4 linked regions of the Homo sapiens genome follow. The protein of the gene in region 3 interacts with the protein of the main gene of each other region in a pairwise test. Each region holds a gene or a part of one and is shown on either strand. Other genes may lie near its edges.

What was found.
Region 1: the proteins of BBS7 (region 3) and IQCB1 interact in binary tests that used the Homo sapiens proteins (3 or more experiments, as listed by UniProt).
Region 2: the proteins of BBS7 (region 3) and ALDOB interact in binary tests that used the Homo sapiens proteins (3 or more experiments, as listed by UniProt).
Region 4: the proteins of BBS7 (region 3) and BBS12 interact in binary tests that used the Homo sapiens proteins (3 or more experiments, as listed by UniProt).

Annotation. Positions count from the first base shown.
Region 1 is NC_000003.12:121,831,383-121,840,185, forward strand, and holds the start of IQCB1 (IQ calmodulin-binding motif-containing protein 1), read right to left. Parts: upstream 3,679-8,803; 5' UTR 3,584-3,678; intron 3,098-3,583; 5' UTR 3,009-3,097; intron 1-3,008. Other genes in the region: EAF2 (ELL-associated factor 2), read left to right, coding at 5,274-5,412. UniProt on the Homo sapiens protein: Involved in ciliogenesis. The function in an early step in cilia formation depends on its association with CEP290/NPHP6.
Region 2 is NC_000009.12:101,425,414-101,433,301, reverse strand, and holds part of ALDOB (fructose-bisphosphate aldolase B), read left to right. Parts: intron 1-2,404; 5' UTR 2,405-2,414; coding exon 2,415-2,526; intron 2,527-3,335; coding exon 3,336-3,547; intron 3,548-4,778; coding exon 4,779-4,833; intron 4,834-5,659; coding exon 5,660-5,820; intron 5,821-6,663; coding exon 6,664-6,747; intron 6,748-7,674; coding exon 7,675-7,849; intron 7,850-7,888. UniProt on the Homo sapiens protein: Catalyzes the aldol cleavage of fructose 1,6-biphosphate to form two triosephosphates dihydroxyacetone phosphate and D-glyceraldehyde 3-phosphate in glycolysis as well as the reverse stereospecific aldol addition reaction in gluconeogenesis.
Region 3 is NC_000004.12:121,852,594-121,860,481, reverse strand, and holds part of BBS7 (BBSome complex member BBS7), read left to right. Parts: intron 1-1,303; coding exon 1,304-1,490; intron 1,491-4,920; coding exon 4,921-4,993; coding exon of another isoform or gene 4,994-5,038; intron 5,039-5,658; coding exon of another isoform or gene 5,659-5,661; coding exon 5,662-5,778; intron 5,779-7,395; coding exon 7,396-7,526; intron 7,527-7,888.
Region 4 is NC_000004.12:122,727,460-122,736,024, forward strand, and holds the start of BBS12 (chaperonin-containing T-complex member BBS12), read left to right. Parts: upstream 1-5,244; 5' UTR 5,245-5,425; intron 5,426-6,444; exon of another isoform or gene 6,445-6,632; intron 6,633-8,565. UniProt on the Homo sapiens protein: Component of the chaperonin-containing T-complex (TRiC), a molecular chaperone complex that assists the folding of proteins upon ATP hydrolysis.

The sequences.
Region 1 (8,803 bases), on a different chromosome or scaffold from region 3:
AGGGTCTCTGTAATATCTTTATAATAAACTGGAAAACATGTTTCCCTCAGTTTTGTTAGCTCCTCTAGCAAATTAATACACCCCAAGGTGTGTATTAATAGGATTCCTCATGTGTAGCTGGTCAGTCAGAAGCACAGGTAAAACAACTTAGGGCTTGGATTGGCATCAGAAATGGGGGTCCCTCTTGCAGGACTAAGCCCTAAACCTAAGGGATCTGACCCTATCTCCAAGTAGACAGTGTCAGAATTGAATTAGATGATACCCAGCTGGTGTCCGCTGCAGAATTGATTGCTTGCTTGTTGGTGGAAGAAAACTCCACACATTTGGTCACAGAAGTCTTTTGTGTTGATTGTCATGATGTGAGAGCAAAAACTGTTTTTCCATTCATATATCTCTTATTAGGTACAATATAAATCATTAAAAGACAGGTTTGCTGAAAATACCTTAAAGAAAGCCCAGTGCAACTCCCGGCACATAGTAGTCACAAAACTTTCAAAGAGAGTGCATATAGTTATCTCATTCTCTCCAAATGGCTGCATTATGCTACATTTCCTTTTAAGAATGCAGCAAAATATATTTAAACATCACCTCTACTGGAGGTCACTCAAGCTGTATGCTATTACAAGCAACACTGCAATGAATATACACATGATCCTTTACATTTTTGCCAATCTGTTAGATGAAAATTGGTATGATTGTGTTTTAATTTGTATTTCTTTGATTATTAGGGATGTCAGGCACATTTCGTGTTCACTGGCCATTATTTCTTTTATGTATTTTCTATTCATATCCCTTGACTATATTTCTATCGGTTTGTCTTATTCTTTTGCAGAAGCTTTTCATACATGGATAGGAATCTTTTCTCTTTTATATTGGCTGTAAAATTTTCTCCTTGTCATTTATTTTTTTAAATTTGACTATGGGGTCTTTACCATAATTTTACAATTTTTTTTTTTTTTTTTGAGAGAGAGTCTGACTCTGTTTACCCTGGCTGCAGTGCAGTGGTGCAATCTCAGCTCACTGCATCCTCCACCTCCTGGGTTCAAGTGATTTCATGCCTCAGCCTCCCAAGTAGCTGGGATTACAGGCGTGTGCCAACGTGCCCAGCTAATTTTTGTATTTTTAGTAGAGATGGGGTTTCACCATGTTGGCCAGGCTGGTCTTGAACTCATGACCTCAAGTGGTCTGCCCACTTCGGCCTCCCAAAGTGCTGGGATTACAGGCATGAGCCACAGCGCCCAGCCATTTTTACAATTTTTACATATGAAATATAACAATCTTTTCCTCTATGGCATCTGTCTTTTGTGTCCTGTTTAGAAAGGTCCTCTCTAACCCAAGAGATAAAAAACATTCTCCAAATCTTCATGTTTTTTTGGTTTTGTTTTCCTTACATATCTTCTAAAGTAAGGTATTTTTGTGAATGGTGTCATATAAGAATCTAATTTTTAATGTTAAAGTTATTGATGGATTAAAAAATGCACACAGTAGTCATAAATTCATAAGGTAACTAGTTATGAATAGACATAACAGAAACAATCTGAAACGTCACATTTTCATGCACTATGTATACATACACATACACAGGGTATCTTTTTGGACTCTACTTAGTTTCTAGTAATTTAATCTGTTTGTCTATTCTTGAGCTAGTACAACATAGTTCATTTTAATATATGTTTGGAGAAAATTCACCTCAGAAGGTAAGCTTCATGAGGGCAACCTACCTATCCCTTAGAGATGATTAAATGAGTTAATACATGAAAGCAATTGGAACAATTCCTGGCACATAGTAAGAGCTCTCCAAATGGTTATTATTAAAGCCCAGTTCTACCATCATACTACATTTTAAGACCATCTTTGCTGGCTGCCTTCTTATATCTTTGGTTCACAACTGTATTCCCAGTGGCTAGACTAGTACCTGGCACGTACTAGGATTTGCTAAATACAGGTTGAAAGTATGAGTAAATGCACAAACCTCAGGCATTCTGAGCCTCAATTTCTTGACTTTCTGTTTTTCTCTTGTTACAATAGAGAAAGCTCAGATTTATAGTTGGAAGCCTCTCTAACGTAAAATAGGCTCAAAACAGTTTGTGCCCTCCTGGCTACCGTAATAAAACATCACTAAATCATTATTGTCATCAACAAATATGTGCAGAGCAGTATGGTAGATGCAGGGGATGCAAAGATTCTACACAAGACATACTCTCTGCTATTGTTCTGGTTGGGAAAGAAAAGTATGTTTATGTACATGTGTACACACACACAGATACAAAAAAATATACTTAAGAATATCAGATATATGTTAAATGCTAAATAGATGACACAGATAAGAATACAGGCCATAAAGTCAGAGGACTGGGCTTCTCTGAACCATTTTTCTTGCTGTAAACAAAATAGCAATTCCTACCTCCTAGAATGATTCTATTTAGAAGAGAAGGCAGCCACCAAGATGGTCTTAAAATGTAGTATAAGTGTAGAGCTGGGCCTTAAATAACCATTTGGAGACCTCTTATCATGCTCCAGGAATTGTTCTAATTGCTTTCATGTATTAACTCATTTAATCATTCCAACAACTCTAAGGAACAGATACTATTATTTTTTTCCCAATTTGAACAATGAGCATACTTAAACTCTGGAGAATGTAATTAGCTGGCACAAAGTCACACTGTTAAGTATAAAGCAGGGGTTCAAACTAGAGCCACCATCTGCCTTAAAGCATTTAACTACGATATGAAACAGCTTCGGCACACCTTCAAAGGGTAGGATTTACACAGACAGGTTGAAGGAGACATAACCACCTACCCCAAAATCAATTGACAAATGTGCCTAAGGCAGAAGGTGAGGGAGTGCAGTTGGATTGCGTAATTACCCTGAAAAACCACCTGTTATGGAAACCATCTGTAAACTTTCTCGAGTGTTTCTCCTATAATTCAACACTTCTCCCATCTTTACATTAAATTCATGAAATTTGACACAAAAAGACAATTATTTATCTATTTTAAGGCTACTACCCTGTTGCCAGGCCACCGGGTCCGGCCCAGCCTTGATTCTTCGGGAATCACTTCTCCCTCGCCGCGCCTGTTACTGCCTCCACGGATCACTGTGAGGAAAATAAATGAAAAGGAAATTCAGTGCGATCCTGTTGCGGCTGATCCTAAATGTCTGCAGTTGCTATCTCCGAATCCTCTTTCTCCTCCCCACTACACATCCCCTTCTCCAGTCCTAGGACCACAAGAAACTTCCTCTGGTACAAAAAGGTCAGAAAACGATTACTGAGGTAACAGCGTCGCTTCAAGTCTAAGGACCGAGATTCTGGGGCCTCTGGGCTCCTTTACTCCAGATTCTAGACCCGGCTTTCGCGCTACCAGGCCTTGGATAAGACACTAGGCCCTGTGCCTGGACACTGCACCTCCCCAGGCCTCAGTTTCCACACCAGATCTCTACAGAGTGGGCGTGAGGGCAGGCCGATTCTCCCGTTAAGAGCTCTTACAAGCCGGCTGACTTCGTCCAGGAGCCTGGGGTCCTGGCCTCCTGGTAGGCGCCCTGGGGCCCTCTCCCTCCCCAGCCACCACCTCAGATAAGTTACCTCATCCTCGCTTCGCGTTCTTCCACTAAAGAACCTGGGGCTCCCACGCCGCACTACAGCGCCGCGGCCTTCCGGGGCAGCGTGCGTCGCGACGCGGGAAGGGGCCTGGAGGCGGGACTAGGAGCCTCGGAGTCAAGGGGCGGAGCGCCCTTTGCTAATAAGCCAATCAGAACGTGAGACGCTCCGGTGGGGCGGTGCGCGTCGAGCGCGGGGTGGAGTCTGGGTGACTTGGCTGGCGGGATCAAGTGCAGCTGCTTCAGGCTGAGGTGGCAGATAGTGAGCGCTGGTGGCGGAGTTAAAGTCAAAGCAGGAGAGTAATTATGAATAGCGCAGCGGGATTCTCACACCTAGACCGTCGCGAGCGGGTTCTCAAGTTAGGGGAGAGTTTCGAGAAGCAGCCGCGCTGCGCCTTCCACACTGTGCGCTGTGAGTGAGGACCATCCGGGGATAGAGGGGGAGCCTCCCGGGATGGGGGTGAAGAGGCACAAACCCCTCTGGGTTTTGTTCCCACAGTACCCCTTACACTGTTGGAGACTACGGGGCGGGGAGGGGGGAGGCAGCGCGATCCTCTAACCTGCTCGGAGTCTTAGGGGGTCGGTGGAAGGAATCGGAGTAGAGCAAATGTGGGTAAACCCTGGACAGAGAGCGTTGAGACCAGCAGACAGGAAGGGAAAGTGTGAAAAAAGTCTGTAGAGGTGACTGTGGAGACAGACGTGACAGGTGGATGATGCAGGGGTGGACAGGAAAATAATAAGGTGACAAATGGGAAGGGACTAAGGACCGAATGCCGGGGAACTTGAATGCCTTGAGGCTGGTGGGGCAATATTCTCTCTTTTCATCACTTTTTCTCACCTCTGGCAGATGAGGGTTCTTATTTGGTGTGTTCTTTGCAAAGGGAGAAATTCTCAACCATCCCAATGATCTGTATATCTCTTTGGACCCCAGATTTCACTCAGTTATCAAATACTGATTATCAAAGTATTCGAGGGTGTGTTATTAATTTCTTTATTTGGAAGATGCTTACCTCCCTATGATTTCTACCCTTTGGTTTTCTTTATGTCCTCTGGAACTAGTTTTAATAAATTATTCTCTTTTATGTTGTTGGAGTAGAAAAAGGAGCTCTTTTGCTTTAGCAGTTGGATGATATAGATTCCAGGAAGGAAAATATAGCATATAAGTTTTTATGTGTAAGACATTCGTTTTTTGCATAACAACTGTCATAGAATTGTAGAGCGGGAAGGAAACTTCAAGATCACTGAATTATAACTTCTCATTTTTCTGTGGTAAAACTGTAAGTATTTTTTCACTTCCTTTCCCCAGCCTTGCCCTTCCTTAATATCTCATCATTCCGCCTTTCTCAGTCATTCTGTTCTCGGGTTGTTTAGAGACCTTTATGGTTTTTACTCTGAAATGTTCCATGGTTCAATCAAAACAACTAATTAAAGCATACATTCTCCCAAAAGTTTATTTAAGTTGTAGACAATTTAGTTATAGTTACTCAAAGTAAAGGTATGAAGAACCACTGGTTTTAACCCTGCAAGAATATATTTACTAAAAGGGTTTTTTTAAAGCAAAATTAACATCCAATTGGTAGAATAAATGGGTGAGATATTTGTGAACAGAAACTCTTCAACAGTGTCCCTTGTTTATTCTTCTTTATCATATACTTTCTCATCCAGAGCTCCCCACGATGAGATGGTGCTGTGCTGGCTCTGCAGTTTCTCTCTCTTCAGTCCCATTTTCCGGAAGTGTGATATGCGTCTTTATCTGGTTTTTCCATGCCTTTTTCTCAAATAGTATCTACTCTCTCCTTTTCTCTTCCTTCTCAGGTATGCAATAGTCTTAATATTAATTTTTCAAGTTACAAGGGCTTAAGATTATAAAAATTTGCTTAAGAATATATTTCTATATGATTTGGGTATATATTCTCTTATGTAGGGCACAAATCCCAATTTAAATGAATAAAAAATTGCCTTTGAAAATAATCTTGCAGGTCCTTCACAGCCTTTCATTTATAAAGGTTCTGAAAATGCCAGTATCTTGAAAGTCAGAGGATCAGATGATCCAGCTACCAGAATGAAAATAAACAAAAATAAGCAAAACAACAATAATGACAATAATAAATAAACAAACATACATGTTTGAATACACACTTAGTCCTGTGGAAGACAGAACTATTAGAAAAGTTTTCAGTCCTTATTTTCTTTTATTGTTGTTGTTGAAGCAGGTGTGGTAATGGCACAGAATCATTTTAGATTTATTTAAATAAAACTGTTTATTATTCTTGAGGACAGGTTCATTTCCAATGTAATCCTCACTCTTAAGAACTCAGAGTGAGGTTTGAAAATTGTAGAATAGTATGAAGCTGATGTTCATGCAGATAAGGGGGACCTAATTTATAACCAACCCTCAAGCCAATGTCATTGGAGAGAAAGTAATATTCTGCCTTTATTTACAGGAGCAATTCTGCCTGTCTGATATAAGACTTCAGGCAAACCCGGATGTGAATCCTGGTCTCCACCACCTATATATATAATGTGACTTTGGGAACATTCTCTAAGCTCTCAACCTCAGTTTTCTTATGGCTAAAAGATAATAGTAATATTTACATTTCATGGTTTGTGTAAGGATTAAATAAGATAGCATAAACAACCTGGAACAATATTTGCCACAGGGTAGAGAATAAATAGTAGTCACCATTAATGTTGAAGAGTTATATTCATATGTGTACGAGGGGTGCTAATGAATGTAATTTAGTCAGACTTTGAAACAGCATTTATCAGAGTTTAGCAATAAAAACTATCAAAAAGATAGTCTGGCATGTGGTAGGAAGGGCATGGGATGTTCTATCAACGATAAGCTGAATGCTTAGCAACAGGTGCTTTACCGGGTAGAAGAGTTTCAATAACAGGACCTACTAGAATCAATTTTGAATTGGGAGTAGTACTAGTTTTACTATTTATATCCAGATAAGGCAATGAATTGTGAAATCCTAAGTTTGTAAATGACACCACTTTTTTGTGTCCTTAAATGATGAGCTAATGAGCAGTGTGGGTTTTGGAGTTGGTTGAATTCATTCAAATCCCGGAAAATAAACTGATGATAATAATTGTGGATTCTTATGAAAATATTGGCATTATGTGATGTTACAGTTAAAATAATCAGAAAAGCGATAAACATTGGCAGAAAAGGTATTAAATACAAAGTAGAAAATGGTTTTCTACTCTTCATGCAATATAATAAGTAATTCCATTGTAAACCTGAAAAAATTGCATAGATGAAAGAAATCCAGAGAGAATAAATAAATGGTAAAGTTGGTGGTAGGGTTTCCAAACCAAGGAGAACTGAGAAATGAACTATTTAGTCTGGAATCATAGCAACTTGGAAGAGAATATGTTTGACATTTAGAAGCATACAGAAAGTATGAATATGAGATTAATCAGCAAATTCTTTAATTCTGGAACTCAACCACTTGAAACTCGGAAGTTATATACTTTTAAAAAAGTGTGTGAGGACAAAAGACAACACTGCTTGATATAATGGGTAATAAAGAGTAGAGTTTATTAATCCTAACAGTAGAATAATTAGAAATGTAAATAGATTCAGAATAGTTTTGGCAGATTTATTGATTATGAATTCATGTTTATCATTAAGTAAAGCTAAAGATATTTTGCATACATTTGTCTCTTGCAGATAATCTCATATACTATAGGCATCTATGTAGTCTTCAGGGACCTGTGAACCCCTTGGGATTGTACAGTATTTGATATGTATGTTCATATATGTATTTTTCTGTGGAGAGGATCAATGATTGGTCTATAATTTTCATCAGGTTTTCATAGGGATGGATTTATGATTGTCTCTCATCTCCTAATACTGCTCCCCATACACATACATACAAGTTAAGATCTGTGGATGTAAGACAAACAGGCTATATAATATGAGGAGATAAATTATGTGGCTTGAGTTCCTGACTTCATCATTTATTGACTTCATTACTTTAGAGGAGTTCTCCATTAGTAAAAGGTGGGCAAAATGTTCAACCCAAAATTTTTTTTGTGAAGATTAAAATTGATAGTATATTGTAAAGAAAAAAATCACTTCATAAACACTAAAACAGAGGTTATAGATTAATAGCATATAGGCTGAGCTTGACTTTAGAAGTGCTTTGTTTGGTCCACACCATTGTTGTTTTATCTTGAGTTAGTTGCAAATACCTAACATTCAGGACCTTTTATATAAAAAATCTAGATTTTCAGCTTATCTTTAAAAATCAGATGATAAGCTGGCAACATTGATCCCATATCTTCTCTTGGCAGCAGTTGGGTGGAGCAGAGTTATGAGATTGGGTTTATTCATCCTCCGTGTGACTATGATTCCCACTGGTCAGCTTGACTGCCTGGGTTACCCTGCTGGCCTCTCTAAAGCATCATTTAGCTGTAGTTAAATGACAACCATACCTTCCAGTATTTCCCTTTGTGTTACTGTGAGAAAAATATTAGAAGTCAGAGGGCCATAGTTTTATTCTGGGATGTCATTTCTAAGGTTTTAAATATTTATCATAAAAAATTCTTTATTGTCAAATATTAATAATGGATGCTGTCTATGAGAACAGAAGTATACCGGTGAAAAGTATGAAAGGAAAATGGCAGTCTAACCTAAAGAGATTGAGAGTTTTGAAGTAGAGATGAATCTGAGCCACAGAAAATAATTAGAAAACAAGTATTTTACACATAATTTGACACTTTATATATACTTAAAATAAGTTTAGAAGTGATTCAGAGAAGAGTGAACAATATGAACCTGAATGAACTACAAGATCTCTTCTGTATCCATTACATTAAAAGCACTGTGCTAGAGCCACTATGTGGAGAAATTAAAGTATGAGTACTATGCTTTAAAAAATTACAATCTAATAGGACATGTCCACGAAAAGGTAAATAATAGGTCGGGCACCGTGCCTCACGCCTGTAATCCCAGCACTTTGGGAGGCTGAGGAGGATGGATCACGAAAGTCAGCAATTCAAGACCAGCCTGTTCAAGATGGTGAAACCTTGTCTCTACTGAAAATACAAAAATTAGCGGTCGTGGTGGCGGGAGCCCGTAATCCAGCTTCTTGGAAGGCTGAGACAGAGAATTGCTTGAACCGAAGAGGCGGAGGTTGCGGTGAGCCGAGATCGCGCCGCTGCCTCCAGCCTGGGCGACAGAGTGAGATTCTCT
Region 2 (7,888 bases), on a different chromosome or scaffold from region 3:
ACCCAGATTGAAGAAAATAGTTTAGTAATAGGCAGTAAACAGAAAAATGGAGGTCACTTAGGTGATTTTTTTCATTAAAAAAAGAGAATTAGTAATACATTGCATTTTATAGTGCTTTGTAAAGAATCTTCATGTTTATCATGCAATTTAACAAATATATTTTGAGCAACTACAATGAGCAGGGTGCTCATAGATGGCATTTGAGTTACCTGGCAAAGAGACAACCAGAACAGTTATTATCACCATTTAATCCATAGTAAACTGAGACTCAGGAAGCTGCCTGACTTGCCTGAGGTTCCAGCTAGATTAGGCAGAGCTGGTTCTTAAAACTAGGTCTGTCTGATCTGCTAGCAGCAAACCTCTACATAAATGTGTCAGATGTTTATGAATAAGTAATGTCCATGGTGTAATCACCCACAGCGTAAGGTACTCTGGGGTGTCATCAAGGACATTAGGAGTCATCCAAAGGCCATTTTTTTCATCAAGCTCACTCTTTCCCTTGAATGGAAAGGAGTACTGCCCCTTATCTCAACTTGATGCCTTATTAGCTATTTGTCCTTGGATAAATAATTTACACTCTCTTATATTCTTTCCTAATCTATTAAATGGGAGGGGAAAAGAGCCCAACCACCTTCTGGGATTATTTTCAAGAAAAATTATATAGTGCATGTAAAGCCATTAGCAGAGTGCTTGACAATACATGATCACTTGTTGTTATTATTATTATTGGGCTGATTTTCCCTTTTGTTTCATTAAGAAAATATCTTTCTTTCTTGGTAATTGTCAACTCCTTTGTACAAATGCCTAAACTGAGAGAGAAAGTTTGCACCTTGCTCTGAAGATCACACCCAGGTTGGCTTTTTTCAGCATGATGATCTGGAGGCCAGGTCCAAAGCTAAAAGTCTTTGACTCCAATATTACAGCTAATATATAAACAGGGCAAACATGCTCTGCTGGTGGCTGGGACATAATGGGCCTTAGAAGGTCATCTTCTCTAGAAATTGTTGCCCACTAGCTTGTCCTATTACCCCAGTAACAGCATTGCAGTTTCATTCTTTTGGGGTAAGACAAGAACCTCTGTTGAAATGGAGAGGCAACAATGAGATCATCAGTTATACCTTCTCATGAATTAGCTCAGTGGCTACTGACTTTTTATATCAAGGGACAGAGTACTGACAGCCTACCCTGAAGGGATGCAGAAAATGTGGAGAAATATATTTGTCATGAGGACAGGACTGGATAGGGACTCTGCTTCATCCTAGCTGGGACCTTGAACAAGTCAGTTAGCTTCTCTACGTCTTAGCTTGCTCATTAATTAATGAAGATAATACCTGCTATAATTACCTCATTGCCAATGGATCAGATGAGACCTGAGGTGTCCCTGGGCTTCCGGGAAGTAATATGTAGACATGGAGCATCCACCCTGTGCTGAGTGTATTGGAGGGAGAGAAGATTAGAGAAAGGAGGAGACCCTGGCATTGGATAGGAAGCTACCCAAGATAATCTTCATTACCATTTTTTCTTTGGTAGCCCAACCTATGCAAAAAGCACTCTTTGTAACACCCAAAGTGAGGGCTCTTTGAGCTTGCATTTTCAAGATTAACCCAAAGTGGCATCCGAACAGGGGCAACGATCTCCTTCAGAGCACAACCACTGTGGAGGCTGCTTGGTTAGGGGGTCTTCAAGCCAGAGTCTCCCCTTGCTAAAGCAGTGAAGCTGGAGCAGGGACTGCCATACAACTTTAGCATCCTCATAGGCAGTGAGAAACCCAAGCCCAGAGGCACTTAGGAAACATCCTCTCTGGTCTGCCCCAAGTGGTTTCATAGAGGGTTGAATATAAGGAAAAGGAAACTTGCACCCAACCCTCTGTAGCCCGAGGCCAAATGGAAGTTAGCTTTAAGACTATGTATAGATTTCTCCTTTCAAGTTTGTTTCCTGGAGAATAATCTGTTGGAACTACAGACTAACAGAGCAAAGCAGAGGATAACTGCAGAGGTCAAGAGCGACATTGTCCTGGCCTCAAGCCATTAAGGAAATCCAGTGGCACCAGGAGTCCACAGAATAGAGAGACAGTCCATTACTGCAGTCCCCTCTATTAGTCATATTTTAGTGGGTCACTAATTAGCTGGTTCAGTGTTTTGATTAGTGATTCCAAAGGCCTGCTGGAAAGCATTCTGTCTAGGATCACCATGAACATTCAGTAACCCACCTTCATTCATTGCAGCTAATTGCAACTAATAAGTGATGGGGGAAAAACAAACCTCATTTGCTTATCCACCTGTGGAAATGGGTCAGAGGTGTCACAGAGGTCTGCACAGCATGTCTGCACCCCCAACTGTCTTGGTCATGCATCCATCTGAGCCACCCATGGTTCTGTGCACAACTCTCGCACACTCTTTTCCAGACCTGTCACCATGGCCCACCGATTTCCAGCCCTCACCCAGGAGCAGAAGAAGGAGCTCTCAGAAATTGCCCAGAGCATTGTTGCCAATGGAAAGGGGATCCTGGCTGCAGATGAATCTGTAGGTGAGTGTAAAAAGCAGTCTCATCATATAACAACATATTATTTTTTCTACACTTAGCAAAAACAACTTGATAATCATATTCTTTATGGAAGTAAAGGTTTATGTACACGGGAGTGGGAGCAGAAGACTCAGTAAGCGTAGAGCTTTTGAGTCCTGTAAGTAGTAGGCACATTCCTGAAAGCCAAGGAAAGAGGCTCAAGCCCTTCATTTTAAGCCAGGGGTCATTTGAATCCAGCCTTGTAGTAAGGCCAGAAACTTAGTAACTAGCATAAGGTCAGATACACAGGCATCTGCTACTAGTGAGAAGTCAGTTTAAAGTCAGTTTAAATTCAGTTGAGTCAAGAAGGGCAGGAAAGTATCTGCATCTGGAATAGGACAGGGCTTATGGATGGGAGAACCTCAGGATGGCACAAGGGAGAGCTGTGGCAGAGTTGCACAGCCTGCCATAAAATCACAGAACCCTGAGAATCAAGAGCATGCCCCATCCCTCCTTCTGCATGTACATCCAGCAAGACTGAGGACCAGATCAGGGAGGCTAGAGAGGCCTGAGGGCCTTCCATATCCACCTGGACCTGAGGGTGGCTTCCACCCTGACCTCTATATGCCCAGCCCACATACTCCCTAACTAGCCACCTGAGAGCAACCAGGGTCTTCTCCCTGGAACACAAAAAATTGAAGCAGGAGCTTTGACTATCTGAAAAAAGAAAGTCTTGCTTTCCACTGTGGTGAGGGTCTCTGAGATGATGTGGAGAAGGGTGACAGGAAAGCCCTGGCTTGCTCCTTATGCTGCCCTTGGCCCTCCCACCATAGGTACCATGGGGAACCGCCTGCAGAGGATCAAGGTGGAAAACACTGAAGAGAACCGCCGGCAGTTCCGAGAAATCCTCTTCTCTGTGGACAGTTCCATCAACCAGAGCATCGGGGGTGTGATCCTTTTCCACGAGACCCTCTACCAGAAGGACAGCCAGGGAAAGCTGTTCAGAAACATCCTCAAGGAAAAGGGGATCGTGGTGGGAATCAAGGTGAACACCTCCATTCACACCTCACTTCTGCTTTGTCCTAGGCAAACTCCAAGCACACTGGCAAGGACAGGGCCAACACTCTGAACATTCTCCTCATCAAATTTCTCTTCTCACCCTTTTCCATCGTCATCTTCCCACAGAGAACAAGATCCTCTTCTAGAGTTTTCCTCCAGTGCCCTCTTCTTTCACTCAAATTTTCTACACGTTCTTAATCTCTTTGCATCTCAATCTCATTTCTTAAAATGGGAATCTACCTCATGATGTTCTTACAGGGATGAAATGACTAAAAGTTTCTAGGCTGGACGTGGTTGCTTACTGCTGTAATCCCAGCACTTTGGAAGGCAGAGGCAAGAGGATCGCTTGAGCTCAGGAGTTTGAGACCAGACTGAGCAACACAGTGGGACCTTGTCTCTACTAAAAATCAAAAACATTAGCCAGATGTGTTGGTGCATGCCTGTAGTCCCAGCTACTCAGGAGGCTGACGTGGAAAGATTGATCACCTGAGCCCTGGAGGTCGAAGCTGGAGTGAGCTATGGTCATACCACTGCACTCCAGCCTGGATGACCCTGTCTCAAAAAAAAAAAGAGTAAGATCCTGTCTAAAAAAAAAAAAAAAGAAAGAAAAAAGAAAAGAAAAAGTTTATATTGCGTAATTATTGTTAATGGTAACTATCATAATTATTGAAGCATTTACTATTCTATCTTATAACTAGGTCTTCCAATAGTGCATAAACTTCTCAAAAGTGAAAACTAGTATCCATTGAATAAGAGTTTTTACCATTCCAAGCATTCATTTAATTCTCATAACCTCTGGTAGTAGACTCAATTATTACCCTTATTTAGAGATGAAGTGAGAAAACTGAACTACGAAGAGTAACATAACTTGCCCACACAACAAGGCAAGGTCAGAGCCAGTTTAGGCTAATTCTCAAGCTCATGACTTTTGCCTTTGCTATGTAGAGAGTAGAGGTTGTATCCTTAATTCTCTTTACCTCCTGTACTAACACAACACCTGGTGCATGCAGGTGCTCAATAAATGTTAGGGTAGACACTCTCACAGTGTACCTTCTAGGTAACTTCCCTTCTGCTATGGACTGAACTGGGTCCCTCGCACTAATACACTTTACTAATTCAACTCCTTGATCTGTAAAAGATGCAAACTGTTAGTTAGTTCAAGAGTTCTGCTTGTGTTTTCCTGACATCTGACACCTGTTAATTATTTGTATCCACAGTTAGACCAAGGAGGTGCTCCTCTTGCAGGAACAAACAAAGAAACCACCATTCAAGGTAAGGATATTGCCCACTGAGATGAATCATGCCAGTGTAAGCTAGAAATGAAGGCAAGTAAAGAAGGAAGCAAGGAAAAACAAAACACAACTATTACACTGGTCTTAGAGCCACACGTACCTGGTTTTCAATACCAGCTCCTCCATTTAACAACTGTGACCTTGGGCCAGTCACTGAAATATTGTGAGCCTCAGTTCTCCTATCTCAAAATGGGGATTTCTCAAAATGTTGTGGGGATTAACTTAGACAATGTACATAAGGTGCTTACCACAGTACCTTGGACAAAGAAGATTAAACTCTGCACCCGGAAGTATTATTTTTAGAAAAAAATTAGCAGCAGTAGAGTGGAAAGTCCCCACACTTTGAGGTCAGACACACCTGGGTTTGAATCCTGGTTCTATCACATGCTACCTAGATAATTTTGCAAGGTACTTCTGCCCAAGTAGACAAGCATTAACTCACAACATTGGGTTAGCTAAGCAGAATTTGAATCCCAGCTCTGTCACTCTTGAGCAATTCAAACTTGGTAAAGTTGCTTAACCATTAGGAGCTTCAGTTTCCACCTTTGTAAAATGAGTATCATATTAACTATTGGTTTCTTCTATTCTATATATGGAGTAGATAGTATGTATGTCAAAACACTATTTATTAAATCTAAGTCTTCTGGTTCAGTGTTGTGATTAATGCTGATATGCTTGGCTGTTTTCAATCCTCAAGCACAGTGGATTGAAAGCTAAGCAAAGGGAGAACTCCTTCCCTTTATTAGAAGCCCCATGGATCAGGTACAAAGGTACAAAGAAGCCTTTCTCTCTTTTGTGACTTGCAGGGCTTGATGGCCTCTCAGAGCGCTGTGCTCAGTACAAGAAAGATGGTGTTGACTTTGGGAAGTGGCGTGCTGTGCTGAGGATTGCCGACCAGTGTCCATCCAGCCTCGCTATCCAGGAAAACGCCAACGCCCTGGCTCGCTACGCCAGCATCTGTCAGCAGGTGCTCTGCCTTCCCCTTGGGCTGAAAAAGAGTAGGCTAGAGTTTTCTTCAGAGCTTTTCTTTTCAATTATACTATAACTACAAATGGACCTCCTTTTCCCTCACCAGTATATCCTAGTGGCATTTTTCACAACTTTTGCTATAGCCAACTGTGGTAGGGAAAGATTTGGTCCCACAAGCCAGTAGGAGTCCAACTAAGCTATGAGTTCAAAGGATAATGCCATCAACTGCTGCCCTCTGTCAAAGCTCCATAAGCTGTCTTATAAGTGATCGGGCTTTTGAGGGCAGGGAACTTGGTTGTCTATACTCCGTAACATCCAAGACATGATCCTCTTAGATTCCTAGCTGAAGAGTGACAGCTCTGACCGAGTTCCAATCCAAATAATTCTTTGGAGGATGGTGACCAGATGCTAAAGTTTCCAACACATACTAAAATGTCTCTGGGTCCGAGTTAAGTTTGATTTTCTTCTGTGAGTACTATGTTGGGGTTACTAGAGTTGTGGACAGCTGGAGATCCCCAATTAGAACTCTAAACACTGCTTGAATTTCTTCATTAACCCAACTTAGAGACATCTTTCTTAATGATTTATGCTTAGATGCCCTAAAAAGGCAGTAGCTAGGTTCTGAGGCAGCTAGAATAATCTCTAGAAAGAAATACAGTAATTACGGGTTTGTATTTATTTTTTATCTCATTCTGAAAAATTCTACTGTCTTTAAGTCATCTATGTAGTATTTCTCCATAATGGCTTCAATTTATACCAATTGCAACTGTTGAATCTCCTCCTAAGGAAAGGATAACAGTGAGCACAGCTTCACTTTTGCTTCCTTGATTTTCCTTTTTAGAATGGACTGGTACCTATTGTTGAACCAGAGGTAATTCCTGATGGAGACCATGACCTGGAACACTGCCAGTATGTTACTGAGAAGGTAAGTTTTAAATATGAAGGCCCCAATTCTAGTTGAAAAATCTTAGTTTTAGGTAACAGCTGTTACTTAACATATAACAGCTGTTATATCTGAAGTAGCCTTTAGGATGGATAGCATAGAGAAGGTAGGGAGGTGCTCATCAGCCCTTCACCTTTTTGGCACATGGTATACTCCATATAGAAAAAGCACAGGAGTTGCAGTACCAAGACTTGGGTTGGAGAATCCGCTTTTCCACTTGTGGGATCTTGGGCAAGTCATATTATCTCTTTTGACTTCAATTCAATTACATGTACACAAAGAAATTTTAAAATAAGACATGTGGCTCAAATGAGAAGATGTAATTAGAAAGTACTTTATTCCATCTGACTTTCTAAATTAGCCACAGTGGATCTGAAAGAGGGTGGTTCTATTCATACACTGTGAGAAAGTAGGAGAGTCATAATGTCACCTGACCTTAGTTTCTCTACTTGGAAAATTATGTGGACTGAAATGCAATCTAAGAGCACTTCCACCTCTAAAATGTATGATTCTATGACTACTCAGCTTCTGTAAACATGGACAGTGGAGGCCCGTTTAGATGACCCCAAATAGCTAAAGCAATGCAGTCTCAATAAGGAATGACATTGACCAAGGGAGTAATGGAAATAAAGGAATGAAGGGCTTCTAGGAAGCAGAGCCATGCCTGTCATTCATGCAGTGAATGAGAAGCTAGATTAGGGGTGATGAAGACAGGCCAGTTTAGTTGTGCTCAGTGGCTATGGATTGCAACACATTGGTCTAATGAGGCCTGGAGATTGGTTCAGAAGCTTTTGCCAAGCAACAAATAAGAATTCCTTCATCCTGCCTCCCTGCAGTGTAAATGTGCCAAGGTCAAGTGGCTCTATGACTAGCTTTGAGTTTCACCTGGTGGGACCTCTTGTCCTTCAGGTCCTGGCTGCTGTCTACAAGGCCCTGAATGACCATCATGTTTACCTGGAGGGCACCCTGCTAAAGCCCAACATGGTGACTGCTGGACATGCCTGCACCAAGAAGTATACTCCAGAACAAGTAGCTATGGCCACCGTAACAGCTCTCCACCGTACTGTTCCTGCAGCTGTTCCTGGTAAGGCCTTCTTTCTTCTCTAACTCAAGGTCTTAGCCC
Region 3 (7,888 bases):
TGGCAAAGATGGGATAGAAAAGTTCTTTACTCAATTTTTGAAAATTGATTGTCTGAATCCCCACATTTGTAAGGTTTTATAGGAAAACAAAAGTTATAACTTGAAGATATTCAGTAAGGAAACTGACCACTTAACATTAGTCACCACATATCCTTTCCTGCTTAATGTTGCCATGTATCCCCACTCATGTCAACAATAGAGATTGCTAAATAGTACTTTGGCCAATATAATGCAAATATAATACAGATTGGTTTCAAAATGGAATTTAAAATTTTGAAAAACATAGAGAATTTCATGAAATTGATAAAAATAGTAAGAGGACTATTCAATCATATGCAGAGCCACAAAGTGAGGCCACTTAATAACTGAAGAATAGAAAATCAGGGAGGATTATTATAGGATAAGCTCTTCAGAGAATAATTTTAATATAAAATTTTTTAATAGAACTTGGAGGTAGAGGAATACATGAAACATTCAAATAAAATTACCCTCTTTATGATAAATATGGTAATAACAACCTAGAAGTGAAAAATATATCACACTTAAATATAATTTTTGTCAAGACATTTTAGCTCACCCAAGTGAAAACTCAGTTCAGTCTAAGAATTAGAATATAGTTATGACTATTGACTAAATTTTGTTAAATGTAATATGAAATAAACTTGTTTTCATTTCTTTTTTCAAGATAAAGTTCTAATGAAATCTTTTTTTTTCTGCTGTTTATCATTTAGTTTGAGGTAGAATCACTTAAAATAGACTTTTTCAGGCAATTTAGTGTGGTAGTAAGAAAGCTAACTCGAGCAAAAAACTGAGTTGCAGTCTAATCTACTACTTAATACTTAGGTGCCATTAGGCAAGTTATTTTACATTTTATTATTCACCTGTAAAAGGAATAATAATGGTCCTTATTTTATAGAGTTATGATGATTAATTGATCTAATACATAAAAATCACTTAAGATAGTGCTTGGCACATAGTACACAAAGAAGTCATTTTTTGATGTATTAATTGTCTTTGGATATAGACAGTTAAATTATCATTATCTTGTCTTTGTTTTCCATTTTTCTGAGCTCAGTTTTTATTGAGAAGCCCGAGGCCTTAACATCCTCATTTTCAGCTTTCAAAATCAAAAACAGTGTTATACCAAAAATACTAGGAATTAACTAGGAGAAAGTTTTAAAAACTGTGTTCTCTAAGTCTATAATAAAATGTTAGTAAACTGTATACATTTTTCTGTTTTTATCTCTGAAAAAAATTCAGTACCTGTGCTTATTTTTAAAAATTACTATTTTAATGTTCTCAGGCACATATCTGGCTCAGACCTCTTTCTCAGTGCAAGTTACATCTATAACCATTATTGTGACTGCAAAGACCAACATTATTACCTTTCTGGGGATAAAATCAATGATGTGATCTGCCTTCCAGTGGAAAGATTATCTCGTATCACACCTGTATTGGCCTGCCAGGACAGAGTGCTCAGAGTTTTACAGGTTGCTGTTATTTGTATTTTTCTAATTTTTTATATTATGTGAAAGAATATCAATGAACATTATGTACTTGAGATAAATTAGTGGTTACTGTTTTAAGGGCTTTTATAAACATGTGGAAACAATTTTTAAATAATTTGACATATTAATTTTTTTAACTTGAGTCAAATGTGTTGTTTTGTAAGTTTTTAAGAGAAGCATATTTGGAAGAAAAAGGATTTTTTTTGCCTCACCATACACAATTTCTGAGCTATTATCAGAATGGAGTACTTTGACTACAGAGAACCTTTACCTGCCTTTTTGTTTTGTTTTCTTCTTCCATCACCTTTATCTTCCCCAAAAATCAAATTAAAGGAAGAAATTGGGTTGGAGGGAGGATGTTATATAACTTGAGTTTATCCAGTGTTTATGGAAGTATATGGAATAAGCACTCAGTAAATATATGTTGGATAAGTAAATGAGTGATAGAGGGAAAATTCATTTTGATGTCCTTATATTTCTGGTAAAAACCACGATTGGCTAAAACAACTGCTTCAGGTCATTGTTATGAGTAATAATAGTTACCACTATATCTTCTTGAGAGTGACTTTCAATAAAATATATGCACACACACACACACACACACTCTATAGGATGCTTAAAATAATGTTTAAAGGTAAATAGCATGTAACAGTTAGATGAACTGTATCAGAAACAGGCTGATATAGTTGGTGCAGTTGATGAAAAAGTTGAGCTGTGAAGTCCATGCCACCACAGGCTATCTCACTCTTTGGAATTCCATAGTCAGATGGCCATTTCTTGGCATCAGCCCTTTTGTAAAAGGAAAAATCCAGTGAGTCTATGAGGTTTTTACCCCCCAGGGACAAAGTAATGTTAAAGGTTCATTTTAGGCCAGGCATGGTGGCTCACACCTGTAATTCCAGCACTTTTGGAGGCTGAGACGGGAAGATCATTTGAGGCCAGGAGTTTGAGACCAGCCTGGCCAACATGGTGAAACCCTGTCTCTACTAAAAATACAAAATTAGCTGGGTGCAGTAGCACACACCTGTAATCCCAGTTACTCAGGAGGCTGAAGCACAAGAATCACTCGAACCCAGGAGGCGGAGGTTGCGGTGAGCTGAAATTGCATCACTGCACTCCAGCCTGGGCAACAGAGGGAGACTCCATCTCAAAAAAAAAAAAAAAAGAAAAGAAAAAAGGTTCATTTTAGAGTTATGAATGATTAATTTCCCCCATAGCCTATGCTTTTAAATATGAATTGTTTTGAACAAGGCTTTTAACAGGAGCTGTTTAGCATTCAATTAGAAATTGACTGAATTCTAGGATTCTGCTTTGACAAGAGATCCATATGCTTATTATTTTTAAAATAATTACTAAAGATCTGTAGAAAATAAAGTTGAAGTCTTTCCCTCTGCACCGCATGCTTTTTTCTCACTCCCCGTCTATCTCTGTGAATAATCCATTACTCCAGAGGTTGCCTCTTTTTAACAGTTTTGTGTATATTCTTTTGTGTTTATATAGTTACGTGTAGATATCTGTAAATTTTAATATGATATTTTAAATAAAAGATAAAACAGGCTGGGCACAGCGGCTCAGGCCTATTACCCCAGCACTTTGGGAGGCCGAGGTTGGAGGATCACTTGACTCCAGGAATTCAAGACCAGCCTGGGCAACATAGCGAGACCCCCATCTCTTAAAAAAAATTTAGCTGGGCATGGTGGTGCATGCCAGTAGTCCCAGCTACTCAGGAAGCTGAGGTGGGAACATCATTTGAGCCCAGAAGGTCGAGGCTGCGGTAAGCTATGATCACACCACTGCACTGCACTCCAGCCTGGATGACAGAGTCAGATCCTGGCTCAAAAAAAAAAAAAAAGATAAAGCATATGGCTTTCTTACGTTTTCTAAATAAACATTAAACTTTTTTTAGTCCTGATGTGGTGGCTCACGCCTGTAATCCCAGCACTGTGGGAGGCTGAGGCAGATGGATCACCTGAGGTCAGGAGTTCAAGACCAGTCTGGCCAACATGGTGAAACTTTGTCTCTACTAAAAATACAAAACTTAGCCAGGCATGGTGGCCTGCACCTGTAATCCAGCTACTCGGGCAGCTGAGACAGGAGAATCACTTAAACCCGGAAGGTGGAGGTTGCAGCGAGCTGAGGTCACAGCATTGCATTTCAGCCTGGGCAACAAAGCAAGATTCCATCTCAAAAAAAAAAAAACATTAAAACAAAAATGTCATACCATATTAACTATAATTTTGCAAATTGTGTTTTCTTTTTTTTTTGAGATGGAGTCTTGCTCTGTCGCCCAGGCTGGAGTAGTGGTGCAATCTTGGCTCACTGCGACCTCTGCTTCCCGGGTTCAAGCAATTCTCCTCCTTTAGCCTCCTGAGTAGCTGGGATTACAGGCATGCACCACCACACCTGGCTAATTTTGTATTTTTAGTAGAGACGGTTTCACCATGTTGGTCAGGCTGGTCTTGAACTCCTGACCTGATGATCCACCCGTCTTGGCCTCCGGAAGTGCTGGGATTACAGGCATAAGCCACCACACCCCATTTTGCAAATTTTGTATTCATTGAATTATAGATCATGGATATTTTTTCCATGTGAGTATAAGTACTTCTAACTCATTCTTTAACAGCATCACAAATACTGTGCCCAAAATGACAAGCATTACAAGTAGCAAAATTGAAAAACTGATAAATATATAAGGACCTAACTTGTTTTTTTATCTAAGTAGCAGGTCATTCAGCCTCTGACTGGAGCAGATTTTGGGAATACCCAAAGGCAAGGCCAAAATTTTCCTTAGGAAGTAACTTTGTGTCTGTTAAAATATTTGGATGTATTCCAAGTTAAAGACTTCCAGTTAACCTAGAGAGGGCAGAGGGAATAATTTGTTCCTAGAGACTTGATAGGAAAATCTGCCAGTGTCAAGTTTTCAGGCAAACAATGTATTTAAAATGTATTAAAGGTAGAGAATATTTTAAATGTTTTCTTCTTGGTCTTTACATTTTATATATATATATATACACACATATATATGTACATATACATATACACATGTACATGTACACATATATACATATATACACATACATGTATGTACATATATGTACATATACATATATACACATACATGTGCATATATGTATACATATGTGTATATATGTATACATGTGTGTACATATCTGTATATATACGTATATATGTATACATTTATACGTATATATGTGTATATATGTTGTTTTCAAATCAGTTGATATATGCAAAATTGCTAACAAATGCAAGTTGTATTCGTAACCTAATTTTTAAAGCAATTTTATTCTAGGTGTTACTAAGAGTACTGTATTTGAATATTGATGTTATTCATGAATGCCTCTATTATTTTCAGTTTGTATTCTGTTTCAGTTTTTAAATACTTCTCCTTCAGGGATCTGATGTGATGTATGCAGTTGAAGTTCCTGGACCCCCTACTGTCTTAGCACTACACAATGGAAATGGCGGTAATCAGGATTTTATTTTTCACAAATCAACTATGTGTTTTAATAGTAAGTGAAAATGGGAAATTGTAGAAAGGACATAAACTAGAATTGAGACAGTTGTCTTTCTGGTAACTTGCCAGTAACTAACAGCACGAGTTATTGAACTTTTAATTCTCCGTTTTTTTCTTTTTTGGGGGGCTGGGGGGCAGGGTCTCACTCTGTCTCCCAGGCTGGCGTGCAGTGGTACAATCTCAGCTCACCACGGCCTCGACCTCCCAGGCTCAAGGGATCCTCCCACCTCAGCCTCCCTAGTACTACAGGCGCACACCACCATGCCCGGCTAGGTTTTTGGTATTTTTTATAGAGACAGGGTTTCGCCATGTTGCCCAGGTTAGTCTGGAACTCCTGGGCTCAAGGGATCCTCTCACCTCAGTCTCCCAAAGTGCTGGGATTACAGGCATGAGCCACGGCACCCAACCTAGTTTCTTCATCTTAAAATTATATAATGGGGAAATGTCTTATCTCTTATAGCTATAAAATTGTGTGAATATATAACCATTCTCAACAATTAAGTTTTATATCTTTTTATAGTACTTTTTAAAATGATATTTTTACATAACAACATTTTAATTTTAAAGAGATTACTAATTGTAGGATAAATATAATATGTTGACTTTAATTATAAGTAGGTGACTCTGGAGAAGACCTTTTGTTTGGGACATCAGACGGAAAACTTGCGCTTATACAGATTACTACATCCAAACCAGTACGCAAGTGGGAAATTCAAAATGAGAAAAAGAGAGGAGGTATGCTTTTCATGTAGTTCAGATTCTGAGGTGTCAATGATTATTAAGTATCTTAAATTATATAATTTATTCTATTTTATCTATTTATACTACATAGCAGACTTAGCAATTCACACCTTGATTTATCTACTATTTGTTTATTTGTCAGGTCTATTATACTATTGGCATAATTTTTTAAAAGTAAGAAATGCTGATAGTAATTTGGTATTGATACGTTTTTATAGGCTAATATCATTTTATGCTAAAATCCAATTTTAATTGGATTTTAATTGTCTGAGGTAATTTAGTTGTTTGAGGTACAGAATTAATTGGAATCTGGGAGTCTTTGTTATGAGGCAAAGAAGAAGTGCAGTGGGTCAGAGAATATTCCTGTTTTCTAAGGAATTTATACCTTTCTAAGGAGAATTTATAACTGATTAGGTAGATAGTGAGATGCCTATGTATATGTTCAGGATGTTCATATATTCATTTATTCCTTCAACAAATACTTATTAGGAGAGACAGAGTAAAAACAAATAAATACATAAGACAGCTTTACCTAGTCACCTGAAGAAAATAAAACAGGGCTGTGTATTAGAGAGTGATGGTAGAAGGAGGAGGGTCACTTTTAGACCACGTAGTCAAAGATAGCCTCTTAGAAGAGGTGAAATTTGAACTGAGATCTGATTGATAAGAAAAAGAGTTAGCAATATGAAGATTTGGGGAAAAAAATGTTTCAGGAAGAGGAAAAAGTAAGTGTGAAAGATTTGAGGTGGAGGTAGATTTGATTCATTTGAGGAACAGTAGGAAGGTCAGTCAGTTTGGCTAAATGCGTTAACATGGCAGGAGATGGAGTCAGAGAGGTAGAGTAGAGCCAAATTGTGTAAGCCTTGGAAAACAGTTTGAATTTTAATCTAGGTGCTGTAGGAAGTCATTAGAAAATTGTCAGTGGGAGTGTGACACTTAATTTACTAAGCCTAAACAAAACAAAGGACACTGGAGAATGGATTGGAGGGGGCGGGGGGCAACAGGTCAAAACTGGAAGCATGGAGACCAGTTAGAAGAGTTATTATAATTTATTCTAGTCTAGGCTAGCTTAGTCTAGGCTATCAGTAGCTGGAAACATAGACAATTTCAGTATATATTGTGGAGGTAGAGAAGATGGAATTTGCTAGCAGTTTTGATATGAGGGGTGGTGAGAAAAAGAAAGAAATCAGATGTGGCCCAGAATTTTTGTCTGAGCAGCTAGGTAGAATAATTTATGGAGATGGGGGAAGACAGAGGGAGGAGCAGTATTGAGGGGGTATGGTAAAGAGGGGAATAAAGAGTTTTGTTTGGGGTATGGAAAGTTTTAGATGCAGATGTCTGTGAGAAGATACCAAATTGAATATATAAGTCTGGAGCTTTGGCCAGAGCTGGAGGGAGATATAAATGTAGGGGCCGTTCTCACACAGATTATATTTAAAGACCTGGAAATAGATGAATGTGGATGGACAAGAGAAGAGCACTTGATTTTGGTCAAAGTTTTTTTGCTCACCATTCTGAGTCGGTATGTGTGTTTTTTTCATTCTTACTTGGCATATACTTGACCATAACTATTAGTCTTCTTAATAACTTATCACATATCTCTTTTTAAAGGTATTTTGTGTATTGACAGCTTTGACATTGTGGGTGATGGGGTTAAAGATTTACTTGTTGGGAGAGATGACGGAATGGTGGAAGTGTATAGTTTTGATAATGCAAATGAACCTGTTCTACGATTTGATCAGGTAAGTTCATTAAAAAAGACTATATGCTTATTATTTGTCAAATTATTATAGAGATGACAGATGGTTTGAATTTTATTAAGTGAAAATATATTAAAATCTTGTGTTTGGTTTAAAATATTGCTATTTTGATGTTATCAGAATCTTCTCTAGACTTCTCTTGTGTTTGAATAATAGACTCTTGCCTTTAAGCAGGATAACAAATTACTTTTTCATTATACTTTAAAATATTATTATAAGTCTCTAAAGTATTAAATATTTTGCCTTAGTTTATAACATATAATGACACTTTATGGGAGTAATATTTATATGTTTGGTTAATATAAGTAAGTCTGTTGTTTTAAAATAATAAGATTTTAGGAATA
Region 4 (8,565 bases), 870 kb from region 3:
GGTCTTGATCTCCTGACCTCGTAATGCGCCTGCCTCAGCTCCCAAAGTGCTGAGATTACAGGCATGAGCCACCGCCCCTGGCCAATTTTTTTTTTTTTTTTTTTTTTTGAGATGGAGTCTCACTCACTCTGTTGCCCAGGCTGGAGTGCAATGATGCGATCTCTGCTCACTGCCACCTCCGCCTCCGGGGTTCAAAAATTCTCCTGCTTCAGCTTCCCGAGTAGCTGGGATTACAGGCGCCTGCCACCACGTCCAGCTATTTTTTTGTATTTTTAGTAGAGACGGGGTTTCACCATGTTGGCCAGGCTGGTCTCGAACTCTGATCTGCCTCCCTCGGCCTCCCAAAGTGCTGCGATTATAGGTGTGAGCCACTGTGCCCAGCCACAAACCAATAAATTTTAAAATCCAATGGAAAAATAGGCAAAGGACTTTGTTAGACAATACACAAAAAGGAATAGACAAATAGAGTCTAAACATGTGAAAAAACACTCAATGCCTCTCATAAGAGAAATGAGCATGAAAAATGTATGATTTGCAACTTGCCAGACTGACAGAAATCAAAAAAGTTTGATAATACTTTGGGCATTTTCATATAGTATTTTTGGAAATGTAATTTGGCAAAAATCTTTTTAGAAGGCAATATCTATCAAAAATAAAAATATTTAAATTAAAATGCATATTGATTTTAACCCAATCACTTCATTTGTGACAATTAATTGTACAGGTATTCCCAAATTAAACATATGTATAAGGATATTAATTTAAGCAAAACGTTGGAAACTAAAATGTCTCCCATTAGAAGACTGTCAAATATAATAATTGATATAATGAATTATATGGCCATTCCATTCCATTAGAATGGAATATTATACAGATATTTTATTTGTATTGTTATGCAACTATTTCTCAAGTTATGTAACTATTTCTCAAATATATACACAATGTGTATAATATGCTATCATTTGTGAAAAAACTATTCTGTATACATATGTATATGAATATGCATTCTCTGTAATGATTCATTAAAAAGTGGCAAAAATCTTTGTCTTTAGGAAGAACTGGGGCTTGGATAGGAAGGAGACTTTTATTCAGAACTTTTGGAACTTGTTCATGTATACTTTTAACCATTTGAAGGCTAACATTTTCACATATGAAGCACATTTAATAGGCAAGTTTTTCCCTGGTCTAGAAGAAATGTTACATAATTAGAAATCAAAGACACTGTGAAAACACTTGAGAATGCTCATGAGCACATACAATTCTAGTTTCAATCAAATAAAACCTCTTGTGTTGACAAGACAAAATTAAAACCTTCAGTTTTCATTTCAGTTGTGCTAAAAATGAACCAGGTAGTGTCACTATAGTTAATTTTCTATGAGTCTTTCTTGCTCCAAAGACAACTTGGTTATCAGAAAGTGTTTGTGTGGAGCAAGTGGCATCTGTTGCCTATTTGTCAGGAGCAGAAGTCTGAGCACTTCTGTCCACTGCATCTTGTTTCAAAGTCGCCAAGGAAAACAATGCAGTGAAACACTGGGTGGAACACACATTACTCACATACAGAAGAGACAGAGCAAGATCAGCTTCCCTAGTGGACTTCAGTCTCCCATGACCAGAGGGTCCCTCTTGGCAGCTGACACAGGGCAGGTGGCCTGCAAACACTCCTCTTGTGCTGAAGGACCCCCATCCCCTCCCCCACAGGAGACAGAGCAGTGGGGTTGGTCAGATGCCATATGATGCACACACTTAAGCAGGGCAAAGGACTACACATTGACTCTGAAACAGAGGAAGATATTACTATACGGGGTGGTAAGTTCAGCACAGGCTCTGTGGACTCCTAGTCTCTTCAAAAGAAGTGTTCCAGGCCCAAGGCCCACTCTCAAACAACTGAGTAGGAGTTAAAAGACTGTATGTATGAGATTCCGTTTCCCAACAGTTTGGCTCTTTCACAAGGAAGAAATCACAAGAGTCACAGAATTGAAAATGAGTTAGAAAATACACAGTTATCTTGAAAGTTTTATCCATAGGGAAGCAGCATAATGAAGAATAAGAACTTAAGATTTGGAATCCATGTTTTATTTCTTATCAATGGGCAACTGGGGAATTTTTAAAACTTCTCTGAACTTTAGTTTTCTTGTATGTAAAATGGAGCTAATACAATCAGCTTCCAACTTGTAATATGTTTACTGAGGTTAACACATAAAATCTCGGCCAGGCACGGTGGCTCACCCCTGTAATCCCAGCAGTTTGGGAGGCTGAGGTAGGCAGATCATGAGGTCAGGAGATTGAGACCATCATGGCTAACACAGTGAAACTCCGTCTCTACTAAAAATGCAAAAAATTAGCTAGGCATGGTGGCAGGTACCTGTAGTCCCAGCTACTCGGGAGGCTGAGGCAGGAGAATCTCTTGAGCCCAGGAGGCAGAGGTTGCATTGAGCCGAGATCGCACCACTGCACTCCAGCCTGGGTGACAGAGGGAGATTTTGTCTCAAAAAATATATAAATAAAATTTTTTAAAAATAAAACTCTACACCACCTGTCCTAGCACAGAGGTATTAAGTGCTCACTATAGAGTCAAACTTACAGGGAAATATGGGTGATGTAAGTGCTATTTTGAATTTTCTTTATAACTAAAAGAAGAAAATTAGCAAATAATGTTTCCAGACAGTTCTATTTAATACTTTATGTATTTGAGTAACTGACTAAAAAGCAAATGTTCATCAGGTTTTTTTGGGTTGCACAAAAGGAAAATATAAGTTTTGTTTGCCAAATTCATTTGGATGTGAAGCCAACTTCATCAAACTTTAAAATTCTAAGTCTTTGTGACCTAAGGTTCTCAAAAGAGCAGCTAGAATCAATACTGTTCTTGGATTAATGGCTCAAAGAAGTCATTATGTTTTGTTTCTTGATGCTGTAGATTTAACATCATATTGGTAGAGATGTGTAACTTCTTACATGGATTAGACATCAAGAAGCCAATGTGTACATATAAACTAAAAACTGAAAATGAATACATTCAGATATTAAATTATAAAACTGCATAACAAATACAAATTTGTTAATTTTCCACAAGGACTAAAACAACGCTATTAATAACGAGTAGTCTTTTTCATCACTCTCAAAACATCTTCCTCGTTTATTTCTCCATCTCTATCATGATCAGCTTCATCAAGCATTTCCTGTAAAACAAAATGTAAATATATGAAATACATTTAAAATGACATAAATGAAGTCAAACACATATTCAAAACCAAATTTTATTTTAAATGCATAAGTGCAACTAAAGTTAGAATTATAATCCTAAATTATCACATAAGTTATAATTACATATAAATTATAATTATAAAAATAAGCAAAATCTACCTGAAGTTCATCATGTTAAATTTTCCCCTGGTTTCTTAGCAAACCTCTTGATACCGGTTAGTATTATACTTCCAGTATCATCATCATCAAATAATTTGAAAGTCTTCAATATTTCTTCTTTTTCATCTTTTTTACTCTTTTAAAAAAGAAGCAACTATCCAGTCTTTCATTTATTTATTTTATCAAGCTGGACTTAATTAGATCTTTGGGGTCTAAAGCAGCAATGTGCCAAGTAGCTGTGTTCTGATTTTATTTATTGGTCTTTTAACAATTATGTACTCACACCTGCCCTCAAGGTGCTTAAAGGTAGAGCTTGCTAAGGTGGAGAAGGCACAGGGTGGTCCAGAATGCATCTCTTATTAAACCTCATAATTCAGATCCGTTACCAAAAATGTAAGCTTCAAAATGGAAGGTTGTATCTTTCAATGCTCCTTAGAATAGTGCCTGGCAAAAATAGGCATTCAATATATGTTGCTGAATTAAAGGCTTCCAAATTCTGGCCCCATTCTCTCTATCCTGCAATATAGCCTCATTATTTCCTGACAAAAACCTCTTCTCCACATCATAGTCTTCTCATTACTACCCTGAAAACATATTTAATCTTGCTCTTCCTATCTCCCATCCTTAAAAACCTAGTTCTAATTGCTTCTCTATAAAACTTCTGATTGCTCCAGCCCTAAAATGTAGCAGGTTATTGCTAGTATTTCTTTGAAAAATAAAATCATAACTATATCATTTTTATACTCATAATGGCAAAAAAAAATCTTCAAAACTAATGGTGCCAATTCCTTCTTTATCAACTTCAGCTACCATTTTTTAAATTTCTTCTTTCTTTGGTTCAAATCCTAAGGCCCACACTGCAATCTGAAATAGGAAGAAAAGGAATTATAATATGCCATGATTTCTTTCTAAGCTTTTTAACTCCCTATTAAGAGCTTCTCTCTTTTCTATTATGGACTGAGCATAAACAGAAAATTAGGTCAGCAGGCCTGTGTTTCAGTCCTACTGTGCCATCATGTACATCACTGTTACACCCTGGGCTTTTGCCTACTCATTTATAAAACACAATTAAAATGCTTAACAAGATATCGTTTTGCTAATGCAGGGCAGGCATATGCACTGAAGAGACTTTATATTAAGCTTTCAGAAGACTACTTTTAAAGAAAGCCTTAAAGATTGCCACAAATAATATGGTTTTTAAAATGATTTAGAATTAGAAATAATTTCAGAACCTTCTTTTACATCGATGGTTCCAGACCCATCAATATCAAATAAATTAAAGGCGTCTTTAATTTCTTGCTTTTGGGATTCATTCAGTTCAATTTTTGCTGCTCTTTTCTTCCATTGGTCTGAACTTGTATGGTAGTTAGATGCCTGTAATACACACACATATGGGTGAAAGATAAATTATATAACTGGAATAGTTAGCAGAACCAGAATAATTGATGATAAACTATATTAAAGTACCTATTTCCTACTATAAAATGAATCTCAACAGGAGTAAGGAAGGAGTGCAGTTGCTGCCAGGGGCAGCCTTCCTTGCTCTGGCGGAAAAACTTCGGCCCCGGCCCCAGCAGAAGGTTACAGCTTCACACTCACCAGGTCCCCAGCCGGCAGCCGGCGCTCTCAGCCGGGACCTCCCGGCGTCACCTCCCGCAGCCCCGCCCAACCCAAGTCTTCACAGCTCACTGGCGGTTGCTAAGGCCGCTCTCACCGACCTCTCTCAGCCCCGCCCACCCAGCCTGAGTTATTGACATCCAGTTCATCCAATGGACAGAAAAAAAGGCCTTTAAACCAGCCCTTTCTCTCTACTCCCTACCAATAGCGTGACGTCCCCGCCTTTCGCAGCCCGGCGTTAAGCGGAACTTCTCTCTCCAGCTGTGTCTCTTAGCAACTAAGCCCCCGGCTCCTCCAGAAGCCCCTCTTCGCACATGCGCAAACTGCGGACGGGGAACTGGGCTCCCTAGCCCTGGCGTTTTTGGTGTTGCTGTCCCAGCCAGAATCGCGTCTGGCCGGTGGGAAGCCGGGAACTCCAGCCCCCTGTAGGAGAGGAGAAAGGAGCGAGGTTAGTAGTGAGGTGCTTCCGCTGACTGCTAAGCTAAGTCTTTCCTGAAGACGTGGGAGCCCGTGTGTTTGATTTTTCTGTCCTCTTCGGGCCAGGGAAAGAATGAGAATCTAGGGCCTGGAGGTCCTGGGGTGAATTGGTCCAGCATGTGGCTAGGAGTACTAGAGGAAGAGGGGACTGCCCTTTCTTTTTGCCGCTAGACTTTCCTCATTTTCTACAGTGCCTGGAGCTGGGCCTTCAGCCATTTACCTCCTCCCTGTTTTGGGCAGGGATTCTGGCATGGTAGACACCAGAATTCTGTATAGCAGTGGCATGGGGTAACAGTGTCGTTGGAGGGACGTGGGTATTGGGATAAGCATGGGTCTTGGGATGTATTTAAAGCTTCACTACATACATAGATAAACGTTTTTACATGTTTCGTGTAGCATTTGTTTACGAGGTAGGACTTTGGCCCCACCCATAATTACTATCGGACCCCGCCCTCCAACCCCAACACACACACACACACACACACACACACACACACACACACACACACACATCCAGCCATTTCCTTGGCCCAGTCCTAAGATTTGGCCAGTTGTCAACGATATCAACTTGATCTGCACTTCAGAGTCAGACACAGGTAGTCTGATTATCCAGTTGATTCAGTAACGGCCTAGATTTAGATACTTGTGAAACTTTTGTAAACCAACTCAATCTCTTGTCCAGAGGGCCAGATTTACTGCTTCTGCCCGTTCTGAATTTGGCCAGGAATCAGCTTAAAGGACAGGGGAGAAAGACTGAGGTAGGATGGACCACTGACTTCCTGGTGGGAATGAAGGAATGAGAGAATCTTAAAACTTCTAACCTTTAATTGCTCACACATGCGGACCCCTTTTATGCCTCCTACAATGTCTTCTCTAGAGGAAATATTTTCTAAAAATTATACTGGATTCTTCAAAAATGGATTCAGGAAGAATACTAACTTTAGTCTTTTTTTTTTTTTTTTTTTTTTTGTCTCACTTATCTTCCTGAAGGCAGGAGAGGAAAACAAGTGCAAAGTGCATTCTTGAAGCACTCTGTCAAATCACTTTTCATGCTTCATTGAGTAGAAACATGGCACATTTTCCAAAGCCATCAGCCTGTCTTGTTCATATTATATCCCAGACAGACACGCAAGTATTGTAATCATTGATAAAAATCTCATTAGGCTTCTGGAAAATAGGTAAGTTTATCCTCATATTGCAGGTGATTTTTCCATATAAAGTTACCCAGTGAAAATTAAAATGGCACAAATCCAAGATAATTTTTGAGTTAAGTAAAATGTGGTCACTTTAATATATGATTTTTCACGTCATTTATCTCACTTGGAAAGTTGCTCTTGATCAGTTTCAAGGTCATACACTTTTTTTTTTTTGAGACCGAGTCCTGCTCTGTCGCCCAGGCTGGAGTGCAGTGGCTCAATCCCGGCTCACTGCAAGCTCCACCTCCCGGGTTCTCGCCGTTCTTCTGCCTCAGCCTCCCGAATAGCTGGGAGTACAGGCGCCCGCCACCGCGCCCGGCTAATTTTTTTGTATTTTTAGTAGAGACGGAGTTTCACCGTATTAGCCAGGATGGTCTCCATCTCCTGACTTCATGATCCGCTCGCCTCGGCCTCTCAAAGTGCTGGGATTACAGGCGTGAGCAACTGCGCCCGGCCATATACTTCATTTTTAATACTAATATTAAAAGGATTTCTTAGACCCAGAAATGAATAGTGACCAAGTATATACTCAACCCAATCCTAATTTCGAGGATCTCTTGGATCATGTTTGATCTAATGACAATTAAATGGCGGAGTAGTATATTAACCTATTTTTATATCACTATGATTTAGGCTTTTATATTTGGAATATTTACTGCTAGTTAAAATGTTTTTTTAATTGTAGGCTCAGATTCCAACTCCCAGATCTTGAATAGGATGTAATTAGTTTTGAAAACTAGCTATTAACGAATCTAACTGCACTTTAGAACATTAATCATCATCATTATCCAGGAAAACATTAAACACATAGGCACTCTTAAATCTCCCAAATGTATTTAATGTTTTCTATATGTCATGCACTATGCCAACTACTGGGTGAGTTCGAAAGAAATAAAAATAGAATATAAAAGATGAATAACTAAGGAATCTACAGATTAGTGGGGGAGCTAGACACAAACATAATACAATGTTTTTAATACAGGGTATTTTTAATCTGCTTTGGTAGATGGGTATAGAAAGTGCGTTGGGAGCACAGAAAGGAGGGACAACTCTACCCCAGGGCATTAGAGAAGTCCTGATAGGAAATGAGGCATTTGCGTTGGGTCATGAAAGATCTATAGCATCTATGGAGATGAAGAAAATATAGACTATTCAAATCAGTATAGCTTAGTGAAAATAAATATGTTCTAGCGTGACAAGATCATGAGGTTTATAAGGAAAGGTGGGAGAAGAGTCATAAATTAGGTTGAGGTTAGATTATAAGGCACATATATCAAGCCAAGGAGTAAAGACTTTCTTTTTTAAGATAAATAGATGTTTTTTGGCAGTGGAGTAATCTGTTTAGGTTTGTGCTTTTTCAGTGCTAATTCTGACCACCATATGAAGGAGGAACTCTCATTAGAAGCAATTAAAGGGCCTCAACTAAGGCGGTGCCAAATAGGAATCAAGTCAACTCCAAGGATGGTTAAAACTTATATTCATGTTGGAGAAATACTAAAAGTACCGTCTGTTTTCTCTTGCTTCAGTTTTGTACTTAAATTTGGGGGAACAAATATGGTGAAAAAAATTCATTCACTTACCAAATATTTATAGAGTACTTGCTGTGTGTCAGGCAATATTGTAGGTACTCGGGATATACATCATTGACTAAAATTGCCTTCCTGGAAATTACATTCTAAGAGAGAGATGTAGTCTATAAAAAATAAATAAGTAAACTATATCCTATTTTATAAGGGAATAAGTGTTATGGGAAAAAGAAAGTATAACAGATGGAACAAATCCAGAGTACAGAGGGAAAAGAGGATTTGTGGTATTCTATAGAGTGCTCAGGGTAGGCCTCATTGAAAAGCAGAAAATTTGAGAAAATATTTGAAGGTGATGCAGCAATAGATTTCTTAGGGAAGAGCATTCCAGA